Homo sapiens: one gene and its partner. The protein of the gene in region 2 interacts with the protein of the main gene of each other region in a pairwise test. Each region holds a gene or a part of one and is shown on either strand. Other genes may lie near its edges. The genes, in order: RD3 and GUCY2D.

What was found.
Region 1: the proteins of GUCY2D (region 2) and RD3 interact in binary tests that used the Homo sapiens proteins (3 or more experiments, as listed by UniProt).

The regions. Positions count from the first base shown.
Region 1 is NC_000001.11:211,486,366-211,497,922, forward strand, and holds the start of RD3 (protein RD3), read right to left. Parts: upstream 5,798-11,557; 5' UTR 5,403-5,797; intron 1-5,402.
Region 2 is NC_000017.11:7,994,085-8,005,675, forward strand, and holds the start of GUCY2D (retinal guanylyl cyclase 1 precursor), read left to right. Parts: upstream 1-8,530; 5' UTR 8,531-8,650; intron 8,651-8,954; 5' UTR 8,955-8,963; coding exon 8,964-9,684; intron 9,685-9,767; coding exon 9,768-10,072; intron 10,073-11,591. UniProt on the Homo sapiens protein: Catalyzes the synthesis of cyclic GMP (cGMP) in rods and cones of photoreceptors. Plays an essential role in phototransduction, by mediating cGMP replenishment.

The DNA of each region.
Region 1 (11,557 bases), on a different chromosome or scaffold from region 2:
ATGGTGGCGGGCACCTGTAATTCCAGCTAGTCGGGAGGTGGAAGAATCGATTGAACCTGGGAGGCAGAGGTTGCAGTGAGCTGAGATCGTGCCATTGCACTCCAGCCTGGGCAACAAAGAGAGACTCCGACTCAAACAAAAAAAAATTAGGATAACTGAGGAAATCTGAATATGAGCTGGATGTTAGAAAATAATCCATGGGGCTGGGCACGGTGGCTCACATCTGTCATCTCAGCACTTTGGGAGGCCGGTGCAAGTGGATCACCTGAGGTCAGGAGTTCGAGACCAGCCTGGCCAACATGGTGAAATCCCGTCTCTACTAATAATACAAAAATTAGCCAGGCATGCATGCCTGTAATCCCGGCTACTTGGGAGGCTAAGGCAGGAGAATGGCTTGAACCCGGGAGGCAGAGGTTGCAGTGAGCCGAGATTGCACCATTGCACTCCAGCCTGGGTGACAAGAGCGAAACTCTGTCTCCAAAAAAGAAAAGAAAAAAAGAAAACTATCTGTGGAATATTGGCCAATAGCTCAATCTTAGGAGGTGCTGAAGTGTTTATGGGTGTCTACAATATCTTACATTCAAATAGTTCAGAAAACATTACATAAATATGTATACACACACCCCATAAACAGGATGTTGGGGCTCAGAAACCAATATCCTAAGATATGGCATTTGGACATGCTGAGCTGAAGAAGCCTCGTGGTCTCTCTGGCCCTCCCCACGGCCACCGTCTCTTCCAAAGCCTTTGTCTGCCTAAGATCCAGATCCACCAAAGGGAACAATGGTTTTTTTCTTCCCCTTTCTTAAGACCGAGAATGAGCCCCCACCTGAACAGACCCTCTCCCAGGATAATGTACAAGTTCATTTCTGATCCCTGCCCCGTTCATTCTCCCTAGTAATCCTCTCACCAGAACTGCTGTTCTCCCCCTCCCATAACCTGCTTTGCCAGGATGATATATAAGCTTCCGAACCACAGTGTGGGGTGAGCAGTTCCTCTGTGATTCTCCCCATGTACGCGTTTGTGATAAATGTGTACGCCTTTTCTCTAATTAATCAGCCTTTCTTGAGTTGATTTTTAAGTGAACCTTCATAGGGCCAAGCCCTTGGCCCCTACAAGAGCAAATATGGCAAAATATTAGCAATTGTTGTATCTGGGGGATATTGATAGATATTTATCACACTTTTCTGCATGTTTATGCATATTCAAGTTTAAAAGTTGGGAAAGCTCTACCTCAAAACTCACTTGTGCAGGAAGCCTTCCTGATTCACTCTACCTGATGGCCTGCGTTGTTCCTCGGGACCCCTGCCTGCAGTCCCTATTCTGCTCATTTCTGCTGCTGTGTCTTTCTTCACCCACGAGCCTGGGCATCGAGGCCTTGCACAGTGGCGTGTGCGGGGAGGGCCTAGGGCCTGGAGACTGAGGCGCAGGGCTGAGTTCTCATCCACTCACTCGCTCAGCAGACACAGGAGGAGTGTGTGACCTGCCTGTCGCTGTGCTAGGTGCTGGGACTCCCTCAAGGAGTGTACACTCAAGAGAGGGGGGAAAACAAGCAGACAAGCAATTGCGATGCCACCAAAGGCACAGCTCTCCTGAGTGGAAAGGGACTCCTGGGCCTCGGCTGTGTAAGCAGTGCAGGGTGTGCCCAGGAAGTGCCTGCCCCTGTTCTCTGCATAACCGCTACTGCTCATTAACCAGCGAGGCCTTGGTTTCTGCATTTATAAAATGGTGTTCAGACACCAGCTCAGCCCACTCCACAGGGCTTCTCTGAGACTCGGGCAGGAGACAATATGTGAAAACATTCAGTAAACTATACAAATCCTGTGCAGTGATCAGGGGTTGTAATTCTTATGAGACACAATCAGGTGGCTAAAAAGTTCACCTGGAGGCCGGGAGCGGTGGCTCACGACTATAATCCCAGCACTTTGGGAGGCCAAGGCAGGCAGATCACTTGAGGCCAGGAATTTGAGACCAGCCTGGCCAATATGGTGAAACCCCATCTCTACTAAAAATACAAAAATTAGCCAGGTGTGGTTGCAGATGCCTGTAATCCCAGCTACTCAGGAGGCTGAGGCATGAGAATTGCTTGAACCCGGGAGGTGGAGGCTGCAGTGAGCCAAGATGGTGCCACTGCACTCCAGCCTAGGCGACAGAACAAGACTCTGTCAAAAAAAAAAAAAAAAACCCACCTGGAAAGAGGTCTTGAAGGCTCTATAGAGAGGAGACAGATGACCAAATGCAATGATGACACAAAACAAGAAGAAAAGAAATGAAAGCCAGCTAGGAACATGGGCTGGGCCCTGCTTGTTAAGACCCCTATCCATCTTGGGGTCCTTAGTAAGAATCTTTGGGCTGCGTTTCCCTCTTTTGTCTGGGAGCCGGGGTGGGGACAGAGTTGCTGCTGTCCATTGACACATACATGCCTTCCGTTCCCTCTCCCCATATTCCCTCCGTGGAGTCTGGGGCCTGGGGTCCAGTACCATCCCCACTCTCACCCCCACTCACCACCTCCACTGCTTTTGACCTCAGATGCATGCTGGGTGGCCTGGCTGCACCCCCACTCCGCCTCTACTTGATCACCAGCTCAGGTGGAGCAGGCTGGGCTTGGGGAGACAGTGCAGCCTTCAGCAGATAAAACCTGAATTCAGTTCCTACGCCCTTCCCCTCCCGTGTATGCTGCCTTTGTCCAAGTCACCTTCATGGCCCCAAGCCTCAGTTTCCCCAATCTATAAGGGAATAATAAAGGTACCTATTTCAAGTTACTGTGAAAATCAAATGAGATTATGTCTTTGTAAATGTTTTATTTTTATAAACTAACAATAAGCTGATTCACCTAGATCAGTGGCTACCATTGTCGCTTAGTACAGATTCTTACCCTTGGGTCCTAGGGAAAATTCAGGGATTTATGAACTTGGGTGGGGAAAAAAGTCATCTTTATTTCCACTAACCTTTAACTGAAATGTGGTATTTCTTTAGTTATGAATGAGGGTCATAGACCACAGTAATATCAGTAGCCCCATGGCTTTATCTCCAGCAGAAACCACAGATTTTTCACAAAATGCTTTAAAGTTGTTATTCTTGAATTATCTGGTATGCTCATCACTACTATGAAATTGTGGCATTTATTAGACTTGCTACTAGGTTTTATTATTTCACATGTTGATAGGGAAGCACACATATTATTATATCATAAATCATTTTTTCTTTCTTTTTTTTTTTTTTGATAGCTGCATTTCAATAGAGCTTGTTTCCTTTGTACCCCAGTGAATTTACTTTTATGCATTTAGAAGCATTTTTCTAGGAACGTGTCCACAGGCTTCACAGACTCCCAAAGGGGGCACAAAAATAAAGGATCCCCTGGCTTGGTGCAAGCTTGACCCCAACTTTGTTCCTGGCCTTCCCCAGCCCTGGCTTCTGGTCACCGTGTTGGGAGAGCTGAGCCTCCCTGTTTCAAGAGAAGGCCCAGGTGGTGAGGCCTCAGGTTTACAGAGCAGAGTGGATGATGGGGAAGCCCTCGCACGTTCTGTCTCTGCCTTTTGGTGTCACTCACCCACGCCCGTTATCTTCCATTCTCTGATCTTCTCTTTCCTCTTTCCTTTCTCCTTCATTACCCCTTCCACCCCCACACTCTCAGAGCCTTCCTTTCAGCCTATTTTTGAACATCCCTGAGGATAATGTCTTTTCTGTGGCTCCTGGGAGGCGCCACTACCAGCTGTGGCTCGTTAGCTGTGCTGGAAAAACTCTCGCGTTGTGCCTCAAGGGCAAGAGGAGTCTCTGGTTCCACTTGGCACTCAGAGGGGGACCAGGGATGTCTCAATGGTGGGAACAATGGGGAGTGTGACCTTGGAGCTGGAAGCAGGGCTCTGACCCCCTGCAGGAGGGATGAGAGTGCCCTCACCTCTAGTGAGAACTGAGGCCCTGCGCCGGCCCCAGCCAAACAGTGAGGGCGTGCAGACCTTGCCCAGGAAGGCCAATTTCTCAGTGCAAAGGGAGCCATGGCCAGGGAACCCGGCCCGGGTCCTCCACCTCTGAAGCTGAGCTAGGCATCTGCAGGCCAGGGTGAGGGGCTGCCCTGTGTGACCCGCCGGACCCAGGCATAGAGCAGCACCTGAGTCAGGCTGTCCCAGAGCACTGGCAGCTTCACTGCAGGGGCAGGCTGGCTCTGCTGACGCCAGACGCTCAGTCTGGGCAGAGACTTCTCAGTGGGGGCAGAGAGTAGGTGCTTCTCTGGCTAATCTGCCTCCCAGCTCTGTGTTTGATAAGGCCCAAGTCCAACTTTACAGATTGCAAATTGACCTTATTTCTCTTTGGCATCACAGAAAAACAACCTATAATCCACCAAGCCAGATATGAGCGGGCCTGACCTGTGGATCCTCTGCCCACCTGACAGACATCTGCTCATTTGTCGGGAACCCCTCAAGAGACAACTCCTCCCTGCAGCCGGCCCCTCACTTCCCCCCACCCATGGAGCACTGATCCCAGCCACCAGGGCCTGACACAAGGGCCCATCACCATGGCATCTAGCAAACACGTTTCTCACGCTTTGGGTTGTATTTATCTCTTCCCCACCTAGCTATGAATTCTGCAAGGGCGAGAGGAATGTGGGTTGAATCTGCTGCACATGGTAGCACTTGATAAGCGGTTCCTGAATGAATGAGTGAATGGCAGCCAGTCCTTCCCATTCTGAGGCAGAGGTGCAGCCAGGAGAGGGCGTGTACACAGGTCTGACTGACCACAGTGGGAGGGGACTGACCCTCATCCCTTGGTCGCAGCTGGACTTTCCTTCTAGGCCCGATCTCCCTGGCGCCCCACCCTGCACCCATCTGCCTGGGCCCACTCTCCTGGGCATGTTATCAGGGATGCACAGACTGCTCCATGTTCGAGGGGACTGAGGCACATCCATCACCCTCGTGCCCTGGGTGCTGCTGCATCCCCAGAGCCTGACTCTGTGCCTTGGACTTAGTAGATGCTCGAATCACAGTTCGCAAACCCATGCAAGAGTCTCTGATTTGGGTTTCGCTTTCCTTCCCCCTGCCTGTGTCCACTCTATAAAGGCAGAAAGGAACCTGCTGGAGCTGGGTCCTCCCCGAGAGGCTTGCAGTTCCAGAACAGGCAAAAACAATGGCTTCCCACAGGTTTACAAAACAAGGAGCAGGCTATAGCCCCGAGGAAGCTGCAGGACCCTCATCGGTTCCAACTCCTGTGGAACTGATGAGGACTAAAGGGGCCTTCCTGTGGCCATCTGGGTCCCGGAGGTGGGCGGCTTTCTAGGCTCCCCAGCCTGCCACACCCCTTGAGGCCACCCCACCCAGCTTCAAGCCTCAGCCCTAACTTCCAAAGGTGCAGCTGTGCCAGGGTGCGGGTGGGGAAGACACTGTCTCCTGGGGAGACCTCCATCTTACCTCTGAGGTCAGCCTCTGCTCAGGTGCAGCGTCACAGCAGGGGGCCTGCGTTCTGCTTCCCAGTCTGGGAGAAGAGAGTGTCTGGATATTTTCAGGAAAAAAAAAGAAAGTTGAGCAGCCACAGCAGGGCAGGGCAGTCTACATCCTCAAGTCTCCCTCAGCTTCTCTGCTGCTGCCGGCTGGCCTCAAATTTTGCCTCTCTTTGGTTCTCTGAGAAGTTTTACCAAGAGAAGAGACAGGAGGAGAGATCCAGCCTGGACTATTGTTTGTGGGGTGTGTAGGTGTGTGTGTGTGTGTGTGTGTGTGTGTGTGTGTGTGTGTGTGTATGCGTGTATGTATCCCGCGAGGCTGGAGCCACAGCTTCCCTGATGAACCATGGAGGCGGGCCAGCTCCTGAGCTGCGGTTGCCCTGGAGACCCACCTAAGCCTCTTTGCCTGGAGCAGCATTATCTGTAGAGGGAGTGGCTGATCTGACACAAAAGCCTGAGGCGACCCAGGCCCAGGCAGTGAGGGAGCACTTGTGTCCAGATGGCATTCTGTCCGCTTCCTCCTCCAGCCGGTGCTCAGTGTGGCACAAACTGGGCAAGACCATTCTCACCCAACCCTCTGCTGAGCCCTAGGTGTACCTGCTGTTGGCAAATGTTTCCAGCTGCCTGGTGGGTGGCTCCTGGATGGAGATCCCCTCTTTCTATCAGCTCCCTCCTACAGGGAAGGGGTGATTCTGGGTGCTGAGGACAGGGACCTGTGAAGATACATCTCCGCCTTTGCCCCACCACATCCCTTGCCTGTCTTCCTCTCTGCTTATCTAAATTATTTCCTTCCCTCAAGGCAAGCTCAAGAGCAGACAGTTCTGACTTTCAGAAGGAGGGGCTGTCCAGGGAGAAGAGGAACATGGAACAGAAAGCATTGACGTTGAGGTATTTGAGATAACATTTGGGGATAGCAGAAGCATCCTGTTGCTGTTCTGCAGCATCCCACACTCATGTCTGGGCCTCCTTCCTGTCTCTGCTCTCTGGTCACGCTGTCACTTGTAGACTGTTCTGCCTAGAAGCCATGTGTGGGCCAGCTTGCACCTAACAGACATTAGGTAGCACTAAAACAGATGCACACTGCCCTGTGAGGGGCATGGGAATACTGTAATGGGCATGAAGCTGCATTATAATAGATCTTAGGTAATCCTGTGCTGGGTGATAGCGTGACTTTTGCACACATCTGGTTTTGATTGTGTTGGAAATAAAGCAGAAAGTACAACCAAGAATAAATTAAACAATGGCTGATGAAATGGACTCAGGTTGCCCACCTGCCTGCCTGCATGATTTCGTCCCTGGGTGATTTGTCACTTCGTGCTTGCTCTGTGGCTGGTTCCACTCAGCTGGTTCCATCCGCCTTCCCTCTTCATCCATCAAGCAGGCAAGATTCTTGAGTCAGGAGTTGGATCATATACTTCTCTTGACCAGTTCACAGCACGACAGCCCCAAAGATTGAGTGGGTCACTTGGGGATGGAAGATCCCCACATTTGAGGGAGCTGAAGCTGACTTCCTCTGACCCACAGTTCCCAGGCGGCCTCCACCTCAGGGCCAGCTAAGGCCAGAGTCACCCAAAGCAGGTAACTGGGAGTCCCCACCTCTGAGCACCCCACCACTATCCTGGCACTTTCCCAAGGGGCGTGGCTTGGAGGTCCAAGGGCAGAAATTCCCAGGCATTTCCACACTGTAGGGAAGGGAGCAGGGGGATGACAAGACTTTACCTTCCCTTTAGGAAAGTTGCTGGAGGCAATGAGGAGAGGAGGGCATGGACTAAGTCACATGCTCATCTGTGCAGCACGTATTTCTAAAGCACCATTCTACAGGGGCACCAAGCTAGGAGCTGGCTGAGCCTGGCTCTCCTCTCTGCACACATCCCAGCCAAGCCTGTGTGTGCTGGATTGCTGGATCAGATGAGGAGGAGGTGGAAGTCTGGCAGGCAGGTGGGGAGCAGGGACAGCATTAGGGCCCAGAGTTAAAGACTTTTATCTCCAAGTAGTACAACCTTGGGTCTGCTACTGACCATTCTGTGTTTGAATAAAAACAATTCATCCCTTTTCTATAGCCATGCTTTTGTATTAATATCTCCCCTTCTAATGCACACACAATGAATGTAAATGAGATCATAGAGGCCAATGTCTTGAGCCATCAGAAAGATTTTGTCGCAGCAGCTGCCAGATGAGCTTCAGGACTCCTGACCCTGGGATGCCAGGGAACAAGCACACAGACGACTTATAGCAGTCTCCCTGGCAGACGCAGCTGGCCCCTCTCCTGCATTTTTCAAATGGTGCCTGTGATTAGAAGAGGGAGGCACTCCCTAACCCACGACCCTCCCTGACAGCTGCCTTGATACCGTAACTCACAGGCCTTGGTGGGTGTGTTGACTCCTCATTTATTCTGATTTGTTCACCTGTGGAGGATTTGTGATTATCCTTGCTGAGTGTGAATTTGCTCTGGGGAGAAAAGGTGGCGGTTGTTTTTCTCTTGTTTGGCGTGGATGGAAGTTGCTGAAGCATAGATATTCAGCAACCATCAAATGCAGAAACACCGGTGGGGCCCGCAACATTGCCTCATAGATGGCATTTGATTAATAAATTGGAAATGTGGAGTTATGAGGCGATTACATGCAAGGCTGGATTAAAATCCGCATGGAGATTAGAGATAAGCCCCGGCTCTGCGTGTGTGTGTGTGTGTGTGTGTGTGTGTGTGCACGCGCGCGCTCCGTTCTCTCCTCCCTGGAGTCTTTCCAGGCTATTTCAAACCATTTCTAACCACTCAGTCATGCGTTGGGTTTTCCAAATCCTGCAGAAGGTCTGTGTAGCCCTAATCCCAAAGAAGTTGAATTAAATGGACAGAATATTCATAGGTACAGACCAGATTTGCAGTTACTTAGACCTCTTCTCTCTGGGCATCCCTCTTTCTATTCCTGTGGTCACATTTCCTCTCCAGGTGCTACGGACTGAATGTTGTGTCCTCCCCAAAATTCAATCTTGAATCTCCCAAGGTGATGGTTAGGAGGTGGGACCTTTCGGATGTGATTAGGTCGTAAGAGGGGAGCCCTCAGGAATGAGATTACTGCCCTTGTGAAATGGTCTCAGGGAGCTTTTTGGCCCTTCTACCACGTGAGGACACTGTGAGAAGATGCCTCCATCAACTAGGAAGTGGGCTTTCAGCAGACACTGAATCTACTGGCACCTTGATCTTGGACTTCCCAGCCTCCAGAGCTGTGAGAAATAAATTTCTGTCATTTATAAGTCACCAGTTTATGGTATTCTGTAATAGAAGCCTGAATGGACTCAGACATCAGGTACAGGAAGCAATGTGTCTGACGGCAGGAAAAATGAGAATGCTCCCTTCCCTGCCAGCTAGCTGGGAATGAGGCATAAAGCACTTCTCATTCATTCATTCATTCACCAAGCATTTATTGGCTATATACTCTGTCTAGACTGCACCTTGACACTCCATTTCCATAGACTTCACTGACCACAGCTTCTTCTTCTTCTTTTTTTTTTTTTTGAGACAGAGTTTTGCTCTTGTTGCCCAGGCTGGAGTGCAATGGTGCGATCTTGGCTCACCACAATCTCCACTTCCCAGGTTCAAGCAATTCTCCTGCCTCAGCCTCCCGAGTAGCTGGGAGTATAGGCATGTACCACTACGCCTGGCTAATTTTGTATTTTTAGTAGAGATGGGGTTTCTCCATGTTGAGGCTGGTCTCGAACTCCTGACCTCAGGTGATCCACCCGCCTCAGCTTCCCAAAGTGCTGGGATTACAGGGGTGAGCCGCTGCGCCCGGCTACAGCTTTTCAGTTCTGCCCTGTAGTCTGATGGACTAATGTGAGGGCCTGTGGCAGAAACAGCTAGCTGTCCACCAAGAGTCACATTTCTCCTCCAGAGTACATGAACATGTAGTAGACATGTTCCTAGGAAGCAGCTGTCCAGCTGGGGACTTCATTCCCCATCCCTCCTCCCATCTAGGTGGGGCCGTGTGATGATAGGGTGTAGATGGAAGGGACATGAGTCACTTCAAGGTGTGGCAGGTAGACACCCCTGTGCAACTGTCCACCTTCCACCTTTCCCCTTTGCTGATCGTCAGCCAGGACTCTGAGGCCCTCGGGGTGGGGGAGACACAGTTTTGAAGGCGTTTAGGTCCCTCAATCACTTCATGAAAAGCTGCTCACCCATCATTCATGTTGAACTCTAATGTGTGCAAAAAATCATATGCTTGTTGGGTCAAAGCACTGAGTTGGGGTTTCTCTGTAATAGCAGTTGGCACCACCCAGCTCACAAAAAACCCTGTGAAAAGGGGTGGGTGTGGAAGTGCTGCCCTTTCCTAGGTTCCTGGACATCAGGGCTCTTCCTGACATGTTCGCCGCTGGTTTTTTCACCATCACCTTAAAGACATTACTTCATCCCCTGTTGTCTCATGCCCCTGTGCATGGTGCCCACTCTACCCAGAGTCCCCTCCTACCTGGGGAAGTTAACTTACCCCTCAAAGTTTAGCTTCATGGTAACCGCTTTGTGAATTATCCTCTGTCTGCTGCTCCCTCCTCTCCACTCTGAAGCCTCATTCTTTTTTTTTTTTTTTTTTTCTTTTGAGATGGAGTTTTGCTCTTGTTGCCCAGGCTGGAGTGCAATGACACGATCTTGGCTCACTGCAACCTCTGCCTCCTGGGTTCAAGCAATTCTCCTGCCTCAGCCTCCCAAGTAGCTGGGATTACAGGCGTGTGCCACCACACCCAGCTAATTTTTGTATTTTTAGTAGAGCCAAGGTTTCACCATGTTGGCCAAACTGGTCTCGAACTCCTGACCTCAGGTGATCCACCCACCTTGGCGTCCCAAAGTGCTGGGATTACAGGTGTGAGCCACTGTGCCCGGCCTGAAGCCTCATTCTTCCTTCTGTACACACAGTTGATCCTCATTACCTACCAAAGTACTGGCAAATTTGCCTACTCACTAAAATTTATTTGTAATCCAAAAGTCAATACTCATAGAACTTTTTTTTTTTTTGATGCAGAGTCTTGTTCTGTTGCCCAGGCTGGATGGAGTGCAGTGCTGTGCTCTCAGCTCACTGCAACCTCTGCCTCCCAGGTTCAAGCGATTCTCCCACCTCAGCCTCCCAAGTAGCTGGAATTACAGGCTTGTGCCACCACACCCGGCTACTTTTTTTTTTTTTTTTTTTTTTGAGATGAAGTCTCGCTCTGTCGCCCAGGCTGGAGTGCAGTGGCGAGATCTCGGCTCACTGCAAGCTCCACTTCCCAGGTTCATGCCATTCTCCTGCCTCAGCCTCCCAAGTAGCTGGGACTACAGGCACCCGCCACTACACCCAGCTAATTTTTTTGTATTTTTTTAGTAGAGATGGGGTTTCACCATATTAGCCAGGATGGTATCAATCTCCTGACCTTGTGATCCGCCTGCCTTGGCCTTCCAAAGTGCTGGGATTACAGGCGTGAGCCACCACACCCAGACTAATTTTTGTGTTTTTTAGTAGAGACAGGATTTCACCGTGTTAGCCAGGATGGTATCAATCTCCTGACCTGGTGATCCGCCCGCCTAGGCCTTCCAAAGTGCTGGAATTACAGGCGTGTGCCACCATGCCCGGCCTAATTTTTGTGTTTTTTAGTGGAGACAGGGTTTCACTGTGTTGGCCACGCTGGTCTCGAACTCCTGAGCTCAAGTGATCCCCTGCCTCAGCCTCCCAAAGTGCTGAGATTACAGGTGTGAGCCACTGCACCTGGCCTACTCATAGTATTAGATTGCTGTAAGAGTAATTGCGGTTTTTCCCATTAAAAGTAATTACTTTTGCGCCAACCTAATACTTTTGTGGTCATTCTAGACATGTAGAAAAATGTTAGTGACCTGATGGACTTGTTCCCTGCTGAGCTTGAACAAGGCACGCTCTGCCTTCTTGTTTCAGCTCTCATGATCTTAAGTGTCCTTTTCACAGTCTATTTAGTGCCCACTTTTCATACTTTGTGCTTTTTATTTGTGATTTTGATATCGAAAATGGCCCCAAAAGTAGTGCTGAAGGGCCTTCTAGTGTTCCTAAGTGCAAGGAGGCAGTGACACGCTTTACTACATGAGTTAGATCAGCTTCCTTCAGGCCTGACTTAGCACTGCTGGCGGTGAGTTCA
Region 2 (11,591 bases):
ATCCGCCCGCCTCGGCCTCTCAAAGTGCTGGGATTATAGGCAACAGCCTCCCCGCCCGGCCGAGCCTGCGTTTTTAGGTGTACCATGCAGCATACACGAAAGGGATGAAAGACCCGCGTATCCATTGGCCCTGACTGCTGTGACGGATTACCACAAACTTGGTGGCTGAAACAACACACGTTTACTCTCTTACAGTTCTGGAAGTCAGAAGTCCGAATTCAGTTTCACTGGGCCCAAATCCGGTTGTTGGCGGGGCCTTGCTGTCTCTGCAGAATCCATTTCCCATCCATTTCCCGGAGTCACATTTCTTGCGTCCCTTGGCTCCTGTCCTCCAGCAGCGCAGCATCCTGCTTCAGTGTTGCTTTGCTTTGTGTGTCGAATCTCCCTCTTATAAGGACGCTTGTGATTACATTGAGGGCCCACCCAGATAATCCAGGATAATCTTTCCATCTCAAGATCCTTACATTCAAATGGCGAAACATTATTGAATAAAATGAAGTAAATCTATATCTAAGAACATGGAAAACGTCCAAGACATGTAATAAAGGGAAAAATAGAAACTAATACTCGACAACCAGTTAGAAGATATAATAGAAGAAAAGGACCTACAAGAGCAATATAAAAGATAAAATGCTTTTTAATAAACTTAACACAGTTCACAGGTTCTGGGGATTTGGAAATAAAAGAAAAAAAAAGAAAAGAAAAATACAATGATAAAAAAGAAAAGAGTAACAAGAAATACATCAAACTCACTTAAAGAAAAGGTAAAAACACTACAGAAGGGTACAAAAGTAGGCTTCAACAAATAGTAGTCTTGCCCAGAAAGACTCAACATCCTAAAATGTAAATCTTCCATAAATTAATTTATAAGTTTAACACAATAACAAAGAAAGTGCCAATGACTTTTTAAAAATTAGGAAGATGATTAAAAAGACAATATAAAAAATTAATGCATAAGAATTATCAGGAAAATTCTGGAAAGGAGGAGCAATGAGGCAGAGGACGGAGAGTAGCTCTGTAAATTAATTAAAAATATTATAATACTTCAGTAATGAAAGTAGTATAGTAGTGGTTCATATTAGACAGACTGACCAAGGGAACAGAACAGAAAATCCAGAAATACATGCAGATACATTCAGGATTGTTCTTTATGATGATATGAGGAGAAATGAATTATTCAGTGAATGGTAATGGGACAGCTGGGAACCAGGCAGATGAAAATAAAATTGGATCCACACCTTACTCCTCACATCAGGATAAATTCCAAAGGGGTCACAGATTTAAATGTAAACGTGAAACTGTAAGTCCTTGAAGAATGAAGAAAACATTGGAGAATGTGTTTGTAGCCTTTGCTTTTCTGATAGTGATTTAAAATCCAAACGGCATTTAAAAATTTTAAAAGACTGCATTTGAAAATGTACTTGGCAAAAACACACTCACATTATAAGCAAAGAGTAGACACATCAACTGGGATTTTTTTTTCAAATCATATTACAAATGTGTATTCTCCTAACATATAAAGAGATCTAAAAAATGATAAGAAAAAGACCAATAACCCAATAGAAAAGTGAGCAAAAGATATAAACAGACAGTTCTCAAAAAAGATATGCAAAAGGCCTGTAAACATGAAAATATGTTCAGCCTCACTCAGAAGAGAAACACAAATTTAAACTATACCATGATACTTTTTTTTCCCTTGGATGCCATTTTTCTTTTTCAAATATCAAATTGGAGAAATTAAAAACACACTCTGAATCCAGGCTGTGGGCAACAAGACACTCTAAGTCATTGCTGGTACTAGTGTAAATTGGCATAATCCCTAGAGGGGACAATTTGGCAACATCTCTCCAAATTACAGTGCATTTACACAGGCAATTTGCCTGTAGATGTACTTAGATATATGCAAAGTGAGGCTTGTACAAGGTATTCATCGGAGCAGCAATAGCAAAGAGTAACCAGGTTACAGTTCTGCGATTCAATGGAATCTATGCAGCTATGATCAGCTCTCTATGAAACAAGAAACAAGACCTCCAAGATATTGTTGAAATAAAATAGCAAGGTACAGAACAGTGTTATCTTTTATGTAAAAAGGGGACTAGAAGAAAATAGATTCTTATTGCTTGCGTATGCCCAAGGAGCGCCACAAAACGTATGAGAATCTACCTGTGGCTCTCCCTTTGGGGGAAGTGGGCTGACAGGGGACACACGTGGTAGGGAGCATTTTCACTGTATATTCTTTTTTGTTTATTTTATTTTTGAACGATGTAATTGTATTATATTTTCATAAAACAAATATAAAATATTTTAAGGAGGGAAGCAGATTGTAAAATAGTACATAAAATTATCTATTTTCGGCTGGGCGTGGTGGCTCACACCTGTAATCCCAGCACTTTAGGAGGCCGAGGCAGGTGGATCACAAGGTCAAGAGATCGAGACCATCCTGGCCAACATGGTGAAACCCCGTCTCTACTAAAAATACAAAAAAAAATTAGCTGGGCGTGGTGGCGCACACCTGTAGTTCCAGCTACTTGAGAGGCTGAGGCAGGAGAATTGCTTGAACCCGGGAGGCAGAGGTTGCAGTGAGCCAAGATCGCACCACTGCACTCCAGCCTGGTGACACAGTGAGACTGCATGTCAAAAAAAAAAAAAAGTTATCTATTTTCTCATATATGCATTTTTAAAAGCTATTTACAGTGGTTATCTTCAAAAGTCTTTTATTTTTGCTTACACATTTTTGCATACTTTATTACAGATGTGAGCCACTGTGCCCAACCCGTTTTAACATTTAATAGTGAAAAAATGATATATTTCTGTTTCCTCCACACTATTCTTTAACTATTACAAACTGTAGTTTAATGGAATCCTGATTTTTACCCTCTAGTTTGGATTCAGTGTTTCTAACTTGAAGTTTTTTTGTTTTTTTTGTTTTGTTTTGTTTTTTTGACCAGACCCCCAGGACTTGTTTCCTTCTGTGAGATTCAGGCCAAATTGGTTTCAAAAGTTGTTTTGCTTCAAGGAATAGTTTTTCCTTATCTACTGCTGCAGTGATTCCACAAACAGAAACTTCTAATTCCTTCTGTCAACTCCTCCAAATTTCGTGACTTTATGGGGGGCAGGGAAGGGACTAAAAATCTCAGAAGAAAGAGCTTTATACCCTTTGCCTCTAGACAGAGCAAAACCAAGACCTTCCAGAGAGGGAGCGCCACCTGCAGCTGAGGCTATTTATAGTACAGGAGTTGGATTTAAATATAATTCTGTCCTCTGGTAACTCCAGCCAGCTGCTACTTTAAGATTTGGCGCCGCCCTTTATGTAAGAGGGCATGTTTTGTTTCAGTACCTTTCAGATGGAATCGAAATTTAGCAGTAAGCAACAAACAAGCTCTGGTGTGGGCCACTGGAAGTGAGAAGCAGTGTGGTGGCAGGAGGCTGGCTGTGCAACCTTGGCGTGAGGACTAGAATGGATTTAAAATAGTCCACTCCTTGAGTATAAAATGGTACAGGCTCTGCAGAAAACAGTGTGTCAGTTCCTGAAACAATCAAGCATAGAATTATATGATCCAGGCCAGGCACGGTGGCTCACACCTGTAATCTCAGCACTTTGGGAGGCCAAGGTGGGTGGATTGCTTGAGGTCAGGAGTTCGAGACCAGCCTGGCCAACATGGTGAAACCCCGTCTCTACCAAAAATACAAAAATTAGCCTGGTGTGGTGGCGCCTGCCTGTAGTCCCAGCTACTCGGGAGGCTGAGGCAGGAGAATCACTTGGACCTGGAAGACGGAGGCTGCAGTGAGCAGAGGTCAAGCCACTGCCTTCCAGCCTGGGTGACAGAGTGAAACCCTGCCACAAAAAATAAAATTAAATAAAATTAAATATTTATTTGAAAAAAGAATTATATGATCCAGCAATCCCACTTCTAGGTGTATACCCAAAACAACTGAAGGAAGGGACTCAGAGACCAAGAGGTGGAAGCAAGCCAAGTGTCCACAGAAGAATGAATGGGTAAATAAAATGTGGTATATACTGTACATACAATGGAATATTATTTAACCTTAAAAAGGAGTGAGGTGGGGCTTGGTGGCTCACACCTGTAATCCCAGCACTTTCGGAGGCCAAGGCAAGAGGATCACCTGAGGTCAGGGGTTTGAGACCGGCCTGGCCAACATGGTGAAACCCCGTTTCTACTAAAAATACAAAAATTAGCCAGGCATGGTGATGCACGTCTGTAGTCCCAGCTACTCGGGAGGCTGCGGCACGCAAATTGCTTTGAACCCAGGAGGCTGAGGTTGCAGTGAACCGAGATTGCCCCACTGCACTCCAGCCTGGGGTGACAGAGTGAAACTCTGTCTCAAAAAAAAAAAAAAAAAAAAAAAAAAGGAATGAACCTCTGATACGTTACAGCATAGGATAAACCTTGAAAACATCATGCTAAGTGAAATAAACAGACACAAAAGGACAAATACTCTATGATTCTACTTATGTGAGGTAGCTAAAGTAGTCAAATTCATAGAGACAGAAAGAATGATGGGCCGGGGGCAATGGCTCACACCTGTAATCCCAGCACATTGGGAGGCTGAGGTGGGAGGATTACTTGAGCCCAGGAGTTGGAGACCAGCCTAGGCAACATAGTGAGACCCTCATCTCTGCCAAATTTCAAAAAATTAGCCAGGCATAGTGGCACATGCCTGTGATCCCAGCTGCTTGGGAGGCTGAGGTGGGAGGATTGTGTGAGCCCAGGAGGTTGAGGCTATAGTGAGCTGAGATCGTGCCATTGTACTCCAGCCTGGGCAACAGTGCAAGACCCGGTCTCTAAAAAATAAAAAGGAAAAAAAAATAAGAACAGTGGTTTCTGGGGGCTGGAGGGAGGGGAAATGGGGAGCTAGTATTTAATGGGCACAGAGTTTCAATTGGGTAAGATGGAAAAGTTCTGGAGATGGACAGTGGTGATGGTTGCACAACAATATGAATTTACTTAACACCACTGAATTGTACACTTTAAAAATGTTAAAGTGGGGAGACTGGGCGCGGTGGCTCACCCCTGTAATCCCAGCACTTTGGGAGGCTGAGGCAGGCGGATCACGAGGTCAAGAGATCGAGACCATTCTGGCCAACAAGGTGAAACCCCGTCTCCACTAAAAATACAAAAATTAGCTGGGCGTGGTGGCGGGTGCCTGTAATCCCAGCTACTCGGGAGGCTGAGGCAGGAGAATCGCTTGAACCCGGGGGGCGGAGGTTGCAGTGAGCCAAGATCACACCACTGCACTCCATCCTGGGCAGCTGAGTGAGACTCTGTCTCAAAAAAAAAAAAAAAAAAAAAGTTAAAATGGTAAATTTTATGTTAGGTATATTTTATGACAAAAAGATTTTAAAAATCCCCCCTTCATCTTCATCTATATTACCCATCTGTCCATGGACCCTAGAGGAAAATTGGGAGATTGTCAATTTAACCAAATTGGTCTCTGGACCTCATTCTCATCATGTGTGAAATGAAAGAGTTGGCTGGAGTTTCCACAATTTCATGTAGAGATGTTGAGTCAGAAGACAGGAGATGTGGGGAGGTAACTCTTATGGAAGGTAAGAAGCACAGCACTGTAGAAACGAATATTGATGTCTACTGGATTTTGGAAGTCTGCTACAGGTCAGACATCTAAATTTTTGTTGACAAATTTTTTTTAATTTAAATTAGAAAACATTTCAAGCATACAGAAAATCCCTACATATAGCGATTGTTTACCACCAAAAACTAACAGATGTTAATATTTTGCCATATATATATATGATCCGCCAGCCTCTGCCTCCCAAAGTGCTGGGATTACAGGCATGAGCCACCATGCCCAGCCTATGTGTCTTGCTTAATAAATCCATTCCTACCCTGAATTGATAAAGATGTCTTTTCAATCTATGTCTTTTTTTCTCTTAAAAATTTCTGCTCTTTTTAAATTTTTCTATTTTCTTATTTTTTTTCTTTGTTCTTCAGAGCAGATCTACTTTCTTTGAATTCTATAATCTAAAATTTTTAATTAACTTTATTTGGAAATAATTTCAAACTTAAAAAATGTTGCAAAAATAAAAAATATGCAAAGAACACTCACAGGCTGTTTACCCAGATTCACCTATTGTTAGCATTTTACCCTATTTGTTTATCATTTGAAATAGATAATATATAAAACATACCATATATCATATCTAATATATATTTTTTCTGGACTGCTTGAGGGTCAGTTATATACATGATGCTTTACCATTAAATACTTCAGTGTGTATTTCCTATGAACAGGGATAGTCTAACATAACTACACTACCATTATTAACTTTATAACTTTATACTCTTTTGAATCTCCTGTGATATTCCAATTTTGTCAATTGCCAATTTTTTTGTTAATGTTGATGTTCTTTATAGCATTTTTATAACCCCATGCCGCCCTATAACCATTTTTCTTTTCTTTTTTTGTTTTTTGAGATGGAGTCTCACTTTGTTGCTTAGGCTGGAGTGCAGTGGCGCGATATTGGCTCACTGCAAACTCTGCTTCCCAGGTTCAGGTGATTCTCTTGCCTCAGCCTCCTGAGCAGCTGGGATTACAGGTGCACTCCACCACCCGCGGCTAATTTTTGTATTTTTAGTAGAGACGGGACTTCACCATGTTGGCCAGGCTGGTCTCAAACTCCTGACCTCAAGTGATCCGCCTGCCTCGGCCTCCCAAAGTGCTGGGATTATAGGCGTGAGCCACGGTGCCCGGCCTCAAGCCCTATAACCTTATAGCACTTTAAAAAAATCCAATGATACAGAATCCAAACTAAGGGCAGGTGTTGCATATAATTGTCATGTCTTTTTAGGTTTCTTTAATCTGAAACAGTTCCTCAACCTCTATTTGCCTTCTATGACATTGACATTTTTGAAGAATGCAGTCCTCCCCACCTTTTTAAATAGAACGTTTCTCATTTAGTGTTTATCTTATGTTTCCTTGTGATTAGATTTGAAATAATGCTGGAACATTGCCGAGACGTATTGTGCAGCACTGCATAGGTGTAGTATTATGTCCTTCTCAGGGTATCACATCTGGAGGCAAAGAATGTCTCTCTGCCCCTCATGGTTAATTTTGATCACTTGCTTAAAGTATTGCCCCATTTCTCCACTGTACAATGACTGCTTTTTATTTTATTCCCCACTCCCTTCCAACTCATGGCAATCTGGAGGGAGATACTTTCAGACCCTGCAAAAGTTCTGCTCCTCATCCAACATTTCCCCCAGCTTTAGAATCCACTGATGATTCTTACCTGATCCAATCTTTGCCACCAAGTCTGAAAATGATTCATTTAAAAGTTTTTAAGTTTTATTTTTCACATATAGGTCTTTGACCTGGAATAGATTTTGTGTATGGTGTGAGATAGGGATTGAATTCTATTTTCCCCCCAGATGGCTAATCAGCTCCATTTGTTGAAGTTTATTCTTTCCCAGTTGGTAAGAAATGTCCACGTCTTCACACATTTGCTGTGTTTGTTTCAGTACTGTATATTCTATTTCATTGGTCCATTTGTTTATCCTTGTGCCAAAACTATGAAGTCTTTATTGCCATAGCTTTATAATATATATTTATATAAATATATAATTGCTGTCACTACATAATGTGGATTTATATAAATATATAATATATAATTGCTATAGCTTTATAGTATATATTTATATAATTGCTGTTTTATATATCATATAATTATATAAATATATAATTGCTATGTTTTATATATTATATATTTATGTAGATATATAATTGCTATGTTTTATATATTATATATTTACATAAATACATAATTGCTATTGCTTTATAATAAATTTGTATATCTTATAGGGCATCTTCCATTATACTCTTCTCTAAAATTGTTAGCTATTCTTGCCATCCGGGCAATTATATTCATTTTCACAACAACCCTCAGATTAAGCAATTGCCCAAGGTCCAAAAATCAGCAAGAGGGACTTGGAACCCAGGTCTGTCGGAGGCCAAAGCTCTTTTCATTACTTCCTGAGGGTGGTTTTCTAGGCATGGAGAAGCAGAGGTCAGGGAATCAAGTGTGGCGAGAGAGAGAAGAGAAGTGAAAGAAGAAAGGCAGGTGTCAGCTTGGTGTGGGTTTGGTCTCTGGGATATAGACTTTGCCAGCCAAAGGATGGAGCTTGAACTTAGCTGGCAGAACTGGAAACAGAAGATTGTAAGGAAAGGGACTGGGATCAGTGTTTCTTCTCCAGGACGGATTACCCACAGCTGTCCACGGGCAGGCACTTGTTACTTTCTGGCTGAGCAGGGCAGTGTGGCCGACGGCTGAAAGGGGAAGCTGCGGCTGCTTTTGTGCAGGGGTGGTGGTGATGAGGGTGATGTGGGGGGCTGGAAGGCATGGAGGGGAAAGGATCTGGCTGACTACCTGGAAGCCAGGACAGATCCCACCCCAGAAAGGCGCAGTAGGGGCTCTCATCCTCCACTAGCCCGCCCCTCCCTACCTAATTAAGGACCCTAATCAGCTTGGGGAGATTAAGGGCTCTGGCCGGCTGTACCCACGCCCCCGCCCTGGCCTGGGCTGGCAAGGAAGACCTGTGGGCGGGCGTCAAAAGGGGGACCGGCCCTGTGACCCCTCACCGGGGGCCGTGGGCCCGAGCCCCCGGACTTCCCTGTAAATGTCAGAGGCCCCTCCGCTGGGATAGGGTCGGTCTGAGGGCGCAGGCGAGTCCCTGCTGACCCCTGACGCCTCCGACGGGGGGAGGGGCAGGCCGGGTGGGAGCGGGAAGCCGGGGCGGCAGAAGGGGGCTTCGGGGCGGTGTCCTTGGCCCCAGTTAGTCTTCCCAGCCTCCGGAGGGGGCGGTAGCAGCAGAATCATCCCATGGGTTACTCGGGCTTGGAGAAACTCGGGGTTACGGGGAGAACCCTAGGGGAGGCCGGGGTCTCAGTCGCTCAGCCTGCTCCGTCTGTGTTCGCAGAAGCCGGCAATGACCGCCTGCGCCCGCCGAGCGGGTGGGCTTCCGGACCCCGGGCTCTGCGGTCCCGCGTGGTGGGCTCCGTCCCTGCCCCGCCTCCCCCGGGCCCTGCCCCGGCTCCCGCTCCTGCTGCTCCTGCTTCTGCTGCAGCCCCCCGCCCTCTCCGCCGTGTTCACGGTGGGGGTCCTGGGCCCCTGGGCTTGCGACCCCATCTTCTCTCGGGCTCGCCCGGACCTGGCCGCCCGCCTGGCCGCCGCCCGCCTGAACCGCGACCCCGGCCTGGCAGGCGGTCCCCGCTTCGAGGTAGCGCTGCTGCCCGAGCCTTGCCGGACGCCGGGCTCGCTGGGGGCCGTGTCCTCCGCGCTGGCCCGCGTGTCGGGCCTCGTGGGTCCGGTGAACCCTGCGGCCTGCCGGCCAGCCGAGCTGCTCGCCGAAGAAGCCGGGATCGCGCTGGTGCCCTGGGGCTGCCCCTGGACGCAGGCGGAGGGCACCACGGCCCCTGCCGTGACCCCCGCCGCGGATGCCCTCTACGCCCTGCTTCGCGCATTCGGCTGGGCGCGCGTGGCCCTGGTCACCGCCCCCCAGGACCTGTGGGTGGAGGCGGGACGCTCACTGTCCACGGCACTCAGGGCCCGGGGCCTGCCTGTCGCCTCCGTGACTTCCATGGAGCCCTTGGACCTGTCTGGAGCCCGGGAGGCCCTGAGGAAGGTTCGGGACGGGCCCAGGGTCACAGGTAGGCTCCCTTGCAGGGTGCGAGGAGGTCGGCTGGTCCTGCCGGCAGCCGGACGGCGCCGCGAGCCAAGCCTCTGTCCGCAGCAGTGATCATGGTGATGCACTCGGTGCTGCTGGGTGGCGAGGAGCAGCGCTACCTCCTGGAGGCCGCAGAGGAGCTGGGCCTGACCGATGGCTCCCTGGTCTTCCTGCCCTTCGACACGATCCACTACGCCTTGTCCCCAGGCCCGGAGGCCTTGGCCGCACTCGCCAACAGCTCCCAGCTTCGCAGGGCCCACGATGCCGTGCTCACCCTCACGCGCCACTGTCCCTCTGAAGGCAGCGTGCTGGACAGCCTGCGCAGGGCTCAAGAGCGCCGCGAGCTGCCCTCTGACCTCAATCTGCAGCAGGTAGACGGTCCCGGGAGGAGGGAAGAAGGCAAGGGAGAGGGGAGAGGACAGCCAAAGCAGGGAGAGGAGGATGCAGCCAATGGAGAAAGAACCACTGGCAGCTCTAGCTGTTTGGAGTTTCCTGGGTAATGTAGAGGCTCTGGCCCCACTTGGGGTCTCTTAGTGTACGAGGATTGCCTCTAGAGAGTAGGCAATTCGACCTCTCAAGTCCAACATCAAGCAGTAAACTCTAATGAACTGTAAACTGCAAAACCTTTTGCAATTGGCTTCAAAGTAAACCCGTTTCCACCACCACATACTCCCAGCTGTCTAAAATAAATACTTGGTGTTCTTGAAAGCAGGAAGGAGGGAGGATGCCAATCCAACCTTCATCCCTAGTTCAGAGGTATTTCCTCTGGGGCCTCATCTGGTGGTCTTAGCTTTTCAAGGGCCTAGACACCTTGCAAGAAGCAGAAAGTTCCCTGGGTGGATTCAGGGGCAATCCTAACCAGATCCATAGTGTATTTCCAACATCCAGCTAATACCTAGGGATCCCCAAGTCCCCAGAATCCCAGTTCAGATCATCTAACTTTACTCCCGCCACAAAGGGGGACTAGAAACCACTATGAGAAGGGAATTTAGATGTCAACGGGCAGTGAATTAACCACCACAAAGGTCCAACTCACAGGCGGCTGCATGAGAGAAGGGTCGTAGGGGTTGCAATTTCCCATCGATGCCCCTAGATTCTTCCAAGAGGATTGGAGGTGTCCAATGGAGGGGGGAGGGGTGCAGTGATGGGAATAGTCAGAAGAGAATACAAGATAGGAATCATAATGAGATGGGATGGAGGGAGGGTCGGTCAGTGGAGAGAGGGAGGTTGAGAAAGTAGAGAGAGAAAAGCCCTTCAGCTCTCAGTAAGTACCACAGCAGTCCTCTCCACTGCCCAAACTGCGCAAGCCTCTGAGCGTGTGAGTCACCCTTGATTCCTTGAATTCTTCGCCCCCACTTCCAGGCATCAAGCCCTGTTACTGTTACTTCCTAAAGATCATTCGAATTCATCCGCTTTCTCCATCTTTACTGTCACTGCCCTGATTCAGGCCACAGCACCCCCAGCCCAAATCCCAAAACATAATCTCTCAGATGGTCTCTGCTTCAACACTCACCTGCCCAACACCTTTCTCCAGATCAAGCTTCAGAAATCTGACAGATCTCACCCTGTCATGCCCCTGTTCAAAGCCTCACAGTGGCTTCTGTTGCCCTGGATAGATGCAGGCCTCTCCACATGGCTTACCAGGTCACCTGTCTTTCTCTCTCTTCCACCTCCCATGAACTTCAGCCAGACCAAGCTACTCTGGGTTCTTGGAATGTGTCCTTCTCTTTTGCCTCTGAGCTTCTGAGTGTGCTGTTTCCTCTCTCTTGTCCCTGCCTCCCCTGGATAATTCTGACTCATCCCCTGAAGGATGGTCACTTCTAACAGCTCCTTCTCTGTCCACAGCCTAGGGTGGGGACACCCATTCCTGTCTCTGCAGCTCCCTCAGTT